Homo sapiens: one gene and its partner. The protein of the gene in region 2 purifies or fractionates together with the protein of the main gene of each other region. This does not show direct contact. Each region holds a gene or a part of one and is shown on either strand. Other genes may lie near its edges.

The links. Proteins that work in one complex are often made in the same cells at the same time.
Region 1: the proteins of SAYSD1 (region 2) and ODR4 purify together in Homo sapiens (affinity purification with mass spectrometry; one large-scale study listed by BioGRID and IntAct). This does not show direct contact.

The regions. Positions count from the first base shown.
Region 1 is NC_000001.11:186,396,338-186,399,837, reverse strand, and holds part of ODR4 (protein odr-4 homolog), read right to left. Parts: intron 1,540-3,500; coding exon of another isoform or gene 1,526-1,539; coding exon 1,397-1,525; intron 885-1,396; coding exon 794-884; intron 1-793. UniProt on the Homo sapiens protein: May play a role in the trafficking of a subset of G-protein coupled receptors.
Region 2 is NC_000006.12:39,108,687-39,112,186, reverse strand, and holds part of SAYSD1 (SAYSvFN domain-containing protein 1), read left to right. Parts: exon of another isoform or gene 1-2,867; coding exon of another isoform or gene 2,868-2,873; intron 2,874-3,500. UniProt on the Homo sapiens protein: Ufmylation 'reader' component of a translocation-associated quality control pathway, a mechanism that takes place when a ribosome has stalled during translation, and which is required to degrade clogged substrates.

The sequences.
Region 1 (3,500 bases), on a different chromosome or scaffold from region 2:
AAGATACTGTAACTCAGCCTTTTTTAAACGTAATGAAGTCTGTTAGAGTAATAGCTGAGAAGCATATAAACTAGTGTAGTTTATATAAATAGTACCTACTAAAGGAGCTATTATATAGTATTTAACACTAATAATATTTTGATTATGGCTAAATTATTTAAAATACTCATAGATATCAACAAAAAATACTAACTTTAAAATGTTAACAAAGTTTACTCATTCTGGCAGGAGAAGTTCACTTGGAATTAATTTTTTTAAAAATCCTCCCTGAAATTCTTAATTGTTGACAAATTTGCTAAATTTGATAGTGTTCTAAAACGTTTTTCTAGAGCCAAGCATGGTGGCTCACACCTGTAATCCCAGCACTTCGGGAAGCCAAAGACAGTGGATCACTTGAGTTCAGGAGTTTGAAACTAGCCTGGGCAACATGGCAAAACCCTGTCTCTAAAAAAACAATACCAAAAATTAGCAAGGCATCATGGCATGTGCCTGCAGGCCCACCTACTAGGGAGGCTGAGGTAGGAGGACTGCTTGAGCCCAAGAGGCTGAGGCTGCAGGTGAGCCATGACTGTGCCACTGCACCCCAGCCTGGGCAACACAGTGAGACTCTGTCTAAAAAAAAAAAAAAAAATCTGAGTAGCAACTGAAAAATTTTCATCCAATAATAAAAGATGATATACTGCTTGAAAATATAGATAGGTAGCTATAAAAGATGACGTATCTGCTATATCTTGATATCTTATTACTATATCAGTTGAAGATACGCAAAAAAGTACTTATTTTATACTCATAACTTTTTTTTCTGGAATTTCATTCAAAAGCAGATCCTCAAATAGCATTTCACAACGATCAGCAACTGTGTTCAATATATCCCTCTTTACTGCCTACAGGGAAAAACACACAAAAAACACAGTAAGAAATAAAATACTTTAGATTTACAATATTTAACTAACAAAAAAAATAATTTGCTTTCCAGTACAATCATGCCCACTAAATAACTGATACATCATTCAATGTTTTATTTCCACTTATTTAGCACACTTATTAACAAATTTATAGTTTAATGATAAATTTATCTAAATAGTTAAAAACAGATAAATGAATAAAATTTCACATCTAAAAAAATAATTGCAGTGTTCCAAATTAGATACTAATATGTATAACAGTGGAACACTTACTAAACTTGTATAGCCATCATTTTTAAAAAGGCACAAAATAGATACTCTACATATGAAAATCTTCACACCAATTATATGGTACATTTGGACTGCACAATAGGCCATTATCAGTTAAAATCGAATTAATAATTACAAAATATAAGATTAAAAAATGGTAAAATTTTAGGTTTTTGTTAATAGTTAACATGGTTCCATATGCTCGTTATTCCTTTTTGTACCTGCACAGCATCTTTAACTTTGGGTTTACTGCTGTGGATATAAGCTCTGCATTTCACAGCACCCTTAAGGTTTACAGAACCGCTACATATCTGGACTGTGGCTGTGGATCTGTGGTCTGAATTCAGGAGCTGAAAGACAAAATCTGTTTAAGTTCTAATAACCAACAATGATTAACTACAGGAAATATTTAAACATTATATTAGCGATTTTATGAAGAGAGAACAAAGTTTTGACTGAGCCAAGCATTTGAAATTATTCTCTGCAAATTATTTAAAGGCCTTCATATTTGTTTTTATAAGTTATATATTATTTTCCAGTCATTTTGAAGATATAATGAAATTAAACACAACTACATCTAAATTTTTCTAACATAACCATCTAAAATGGTTCAATATTCACTCGATATGCTCCTAAAAATATATTATTTGCAAATTATTCACATCAGTACTGTGATGATTAAAAGATATACAAAGAAGATATGATGTACTAGATATAAGTTGTGCAATGCAAAATAAGTTCACAATAACAAATACAAAGTGGGATGTGATAACTATGGTAAAACTACAAGCAATGCACAGACACATATATTTACACACTTTCAACCAAAAACTTTCATAGACTAGTCCCATCCTCTTTAGTCTAAGGAATGCCAGTGCTCTTGTTCGGTTTTCAGGTGTTTCACATATATTTTCAACCCCATCATCTTAATAAGTGCCAAAAACAAGGACAGTATCAAAATAGTTAAAGTACTACAGGTTGAGCATCCCTAATCTAAAAATCCTGAATGCTCCAAAATCCAAAACTTATTGAGCACCAATGTGATGTTCAAAGGAAAAGGTAATTGGAGCATATAAGATTTTAGATTTTTGGCTTAGAGATGCTCAACTGGTATGTATTCTGCAAATATTACAAAATCTAAAAAAAATCCCAAACCCAAAACACTTCTGGTCCTAAGCATTTCAAATAAGGCACACTCAACCTGTAATAGAGGCCTATAATAACAGTGGAAACAAAAAATAATGATTTACAAAAAATAACCAAAAAATGGAAATGGTAAGGAAGTAATTTATGTTCTAAGAACACTTGGAGTATAAGTCATTCAACAACCAAATCAATTCTGAAGAACAAAAGTCAAATCATACAACTTGTGAAAAGTGCTTTGTGCCTATGTGCTTATGCAATCAGGAATAAATGCGGAAAAATAATGAAGAGGAGAATACTGACATGCATAGCTATTGAAAGAGCATTATTGATGTCTAGTGTAATTCAAGCAATGTCTAAGGCAATGTAAATCTTCTAGGTGTTGTTAAACAATTTAAACTTTAAGATGGTCAAGGACTTGTTGACAAAAAATTTGCCACAGACCACACAGCTCCAAAGGTCCTGGGTCCATTCAAAAATGGCTATCATCAAACCAAGCAGCAGTGTGACGATGCTGATACAATGTCTGGAATAAGCTTCCATATGACACATGTAGAGTTCATTGATACATCAATAAGGTGGGGTTGGAGGAGGAGTAACAGGCTTCCCCTATCTACTCCATAACTTTTTATTGTAGACAAAACTACTCTAAAAAGAATGTCCTATTTTACATATTTAACATATAATTTATATATTTTTAACATATAACACATTTATATATTAGTATATGTAAATATATGTGTATGTGTGTATATACATATATCTATCTATCTATCTATCTATCTATCTATCTATCTATAATTATGGCATTGTTATCCAAAACAGACTAGACTATTAAAGACTATACACACACATATTAAAGAAAAGAGGTATTTTTTTGGTTGGTTGGTTAGTTTTATTTTGTTTTGTTTGAGGCAGGGTCTTGTTCTGTCATCCAGCCTAGAGTACAGTGATGCTATCAGAGCTCACTGCAGCCTCAAGCTCCTAGGCTCAATCGATCCTCCCACCTTCGCCTCCCAAGTAGCTGGGACTACAGGCACACACCATCACCCCCAGCTAATTTTTGTATTTTTTTGTAGAGACAGGGTTTCACTTGTTGCTCAGACTCATCTTGAACTCCTAGGCTCAAGCGATCACCCTGCCTAGGCCTCCCAAAGTGCTGGGATTACAGGCATGAGCTAC
Region 2 (3,500 bases):
CTTTTTCCCTTTCGAGGTTCCTATTTTTTATTGTGTATACTTACATACACAATAAAGGCAATATCTCTCTTCAACAAGCAATTTTCATGCATCAGATCTTTTTTTTTCTTAAAGTATTTCTTCAAGCCTTCAATTCTATTTCTAGTGATCCGATAGTCAGTTTAAGCTGTTCTTTTACTTCAACTTCTTTCCTATGTTGCTCCACTTTCCTTTCTAACTCTTCCCTAATTTTTTCATATAACATATTAGCATTTCTTCTCATCTTCTTCTAAGCTGCAAACTGTAGAGTTCCTGTTTCCATTCTACTTTTTGATATTGAACTGTGACTTCGTTTCTTGTGTTTTGGATAGCTCCTTCAGTACACTAAACTCAGTTTTCATATTTCTTATTGTCTAGTGTAAGTTGTTCACAGATAATTTTTTTTAAGGTCCAGTGACTTTTCACATGAAAGAAATGCATTCTGGACTTCCATTAGGATACGAGAATCATTACAATCCATTCCATATTGCTTAATGAGCATCATAAACTTCTTACAATGAGGGTAAGGTTTCTCATGATCCTCTGAAGCTGTTTCAGAGGGCCGAGTTAAGTCATCAGGTTCATCTCTAAATGAGTTTGCTTTTTGACCTTTTTCTTTTCATTTGACATTTTCTTTGCAGGCCTAGCATACTCTTTGTTCTCCTTCCTAGGAAATCGCTGATGGTAAGTTTTTCCACTCTTTCTTTGTTGAATTAATTTATCATCATCGTCAGCAGATGTACTATCATATACGTTTTTTTGATACTTTTTTTTTTTAACTTTCGTGCTTCTTTCTAGCTTCTTCAACCTGTGGCTGTTTATTTTCACTTTCAAGCTTTTCCTGTTCTTCCTCTGATGTCACTTGTACTTCTTGTTCTGCTTTGGATGTTTGTTCGTTCTTCCTTTCTATTGCTTTCTTCACAACAGAATCTTTCATTTCCATGGTAGGCTTTAGGGAAGGATGTTTTTCAGGAGGCCCTTCTCCCTTTCCATTTACTATATATTTTTTCCTTTTTTATATGAAGGTCCAAGTAAAGACTTTGAAACACTCTCAGGGATACACTGCTTGGTAGTAAAAGTCAAGTCTTCATCATCTGGTTTAGGCCATGAGTCAACACACAGTTTTTTTTTAAATACTGAATGCAGATGCTTCAGAACTCCCAGAATCTTTTGCACTTGCTCCTCCTGTTTTCAAACTTGCATTCTTCTTGGATGCTTCTTCTGGGTTGTCATTTTGAAGACCATTTTCAAGTATCTTTTTTTTTTAATGTTGCAAAATTTGTTGTGAGTGCTTGTCAGACCACCAGAAATAGCATAATCTGCAGTCTGTTCATACATACTCTTGAGTAAAGACAATATTTTGTTGAAGAAGAATGCTAACTATACCTGACAAGCCATAATGTACAACAGGCATGAGAGCTGTTCTTTTCAACCTATCAACAGCATGTACATTTGCTTGTTTCTTCACTAAAATTCCACCTTTTGCTGTGTTTTGCAAACTATAGCAAGTAAAAGTGGTGTGTTTGCATCCTTGTTCAGCACTTCAGTATCCTTGTTCAGCACTTCAGTATTCACATGGTGTGAGGGCAGTTTTTCTGCCAGTAGTGTATTCTCATTATACACAGCATAGTGTAGTGCATTGTTGCTATAGACATCCATAAGATCTGGGTTGGTGCCACATTCTAGCAGAATGATGACACAAATCTCTTCTTGGCAATGTACAGCCTTCATCAAAGGCATCCTGTTTCATTTGTCACCAATGTCAGTCTGGCACTTTCAGTTCACCTGGAGAGTGACCACTTCCACATGGCCATTGGCACAGGCCAAATGTAAAGCAGTCGTGTTCATCCACAGATGAAGGAATACAGAAACTCCAGGATATTTGCACAATGGAATACTCTTCAGCCATCAAACTTTAGGACATCACCCCACTTCCAGCAACGTGGAGAGAGACCTGTTCATCCACAGATGAAGGGATACAGAAACTGTAGTATTCATTCACAATGGAATACCCTTCAGCTGTGCACATATACTGAAATCATATCACCTGGAGCCACACAGTTGAACCTGTTCATCCCTTGATGAAGGGATGACAAAACTGAAATATATATCCAGAATGGAATACCCTTCCACGACAGAAGTGGATGAAATCCTGTCATTTGCAGCCATGTGGAGAAACCTGTTCATCCGCAGATGAAGGGATAAAGAAACTGTAGTATATATACACAAATGGAATACTCTTCATCCAGAAAAATGTAATGAAATTACATCATTTGCAGCCACACTGTTGAACCTAGAGGACATCATGGTAAATGACCTGTCCTGTCCACCCACAGCTGAAGGGATAAAGAAACCACCATACAGATACACTATGGAATATGCTTCAGCCATAAAGCTTTGGGAAATCCTGTCATCCACAGCCATGTGGAGAAACCCAAGAAACCCAGAGGATATTAGGTCCAAGGAAATGAGCCTGGTAGAGGAAGTCCCACACCTTTTAATCTCAGGCATGGAGATTCCAAAAACTTTATCTCCTGTCCATCTACAGATGAAGGGATCAAGAAACTGTAATGTATATGCACAAAGAATACTCTTTGGCCATCAAAATAACTAAACCATGTCATTTGGAGCAACAAAGCCACTGCGGCCTCCATTTGGGCCAAGCTCTGACTGCAATGATGCCTCTGCCCCGACCCGGGCCTCGCTGTGACTGACAATGCCGCTGCATCTTTTCAGCAGTCATTGATGAGGAAGTATCTACATCCTCCTTCCCACTACCAGATTTTGCTTGGAGAAAAGCAGTTTCCTGAAATAATTCTGTGACGAGCTTCTTCCACATTAGGACAAAAATGCTGGTAACTTTTAAAAATTCCTACAGAAACCTCCTGCTTCCCTCTCCAGCCATATCCCAGGCAAGCCCCCAGCACACCACCCTGCCCCAGAACCCATTTCCCATACCCATCCACCACTCCTGACCTCCAGGCCTTGGCTCAGGCTGGCCTTCTGCTCAAAGGCTCTCCTTTGGAGTCGCCTGGCTAAGCACAGCTGTGCCTCACCCCCGCAAAATCTAGTAGTCATCTTGAATTTCTTCCTTTCCCTCACTATCATTCATTCATTCAACAAAAATCTTGTCATGTGCCCGCTGTGTTCCAGCTTTTGTTCTAAATCCTGGGAGACAGTGTAATTAAGACACACAAGTCCTACTCTTGTACAACTTGCATTTGAGCTTGGGGCAGCAGGGAAAGGAGGACAATAAACAAAACCAGATAAATGCTATGAAAGAAAAAAGATAAAACCAGTAGACTGTGATAGTGAATTAGGGGTGAGGGGAGCAGAGTACTATTTTAAATCAGCTGAGCAGGGAGAACTCACTAAGGAGGAGACATTTAACAAGAAGGAACCACCCTGGCAAAAACGGGGACTAAGCCAAGGGCACATACGGTGACATTTTTGCCGTTTGTAGTAGGAGGGGTCAACCAAGT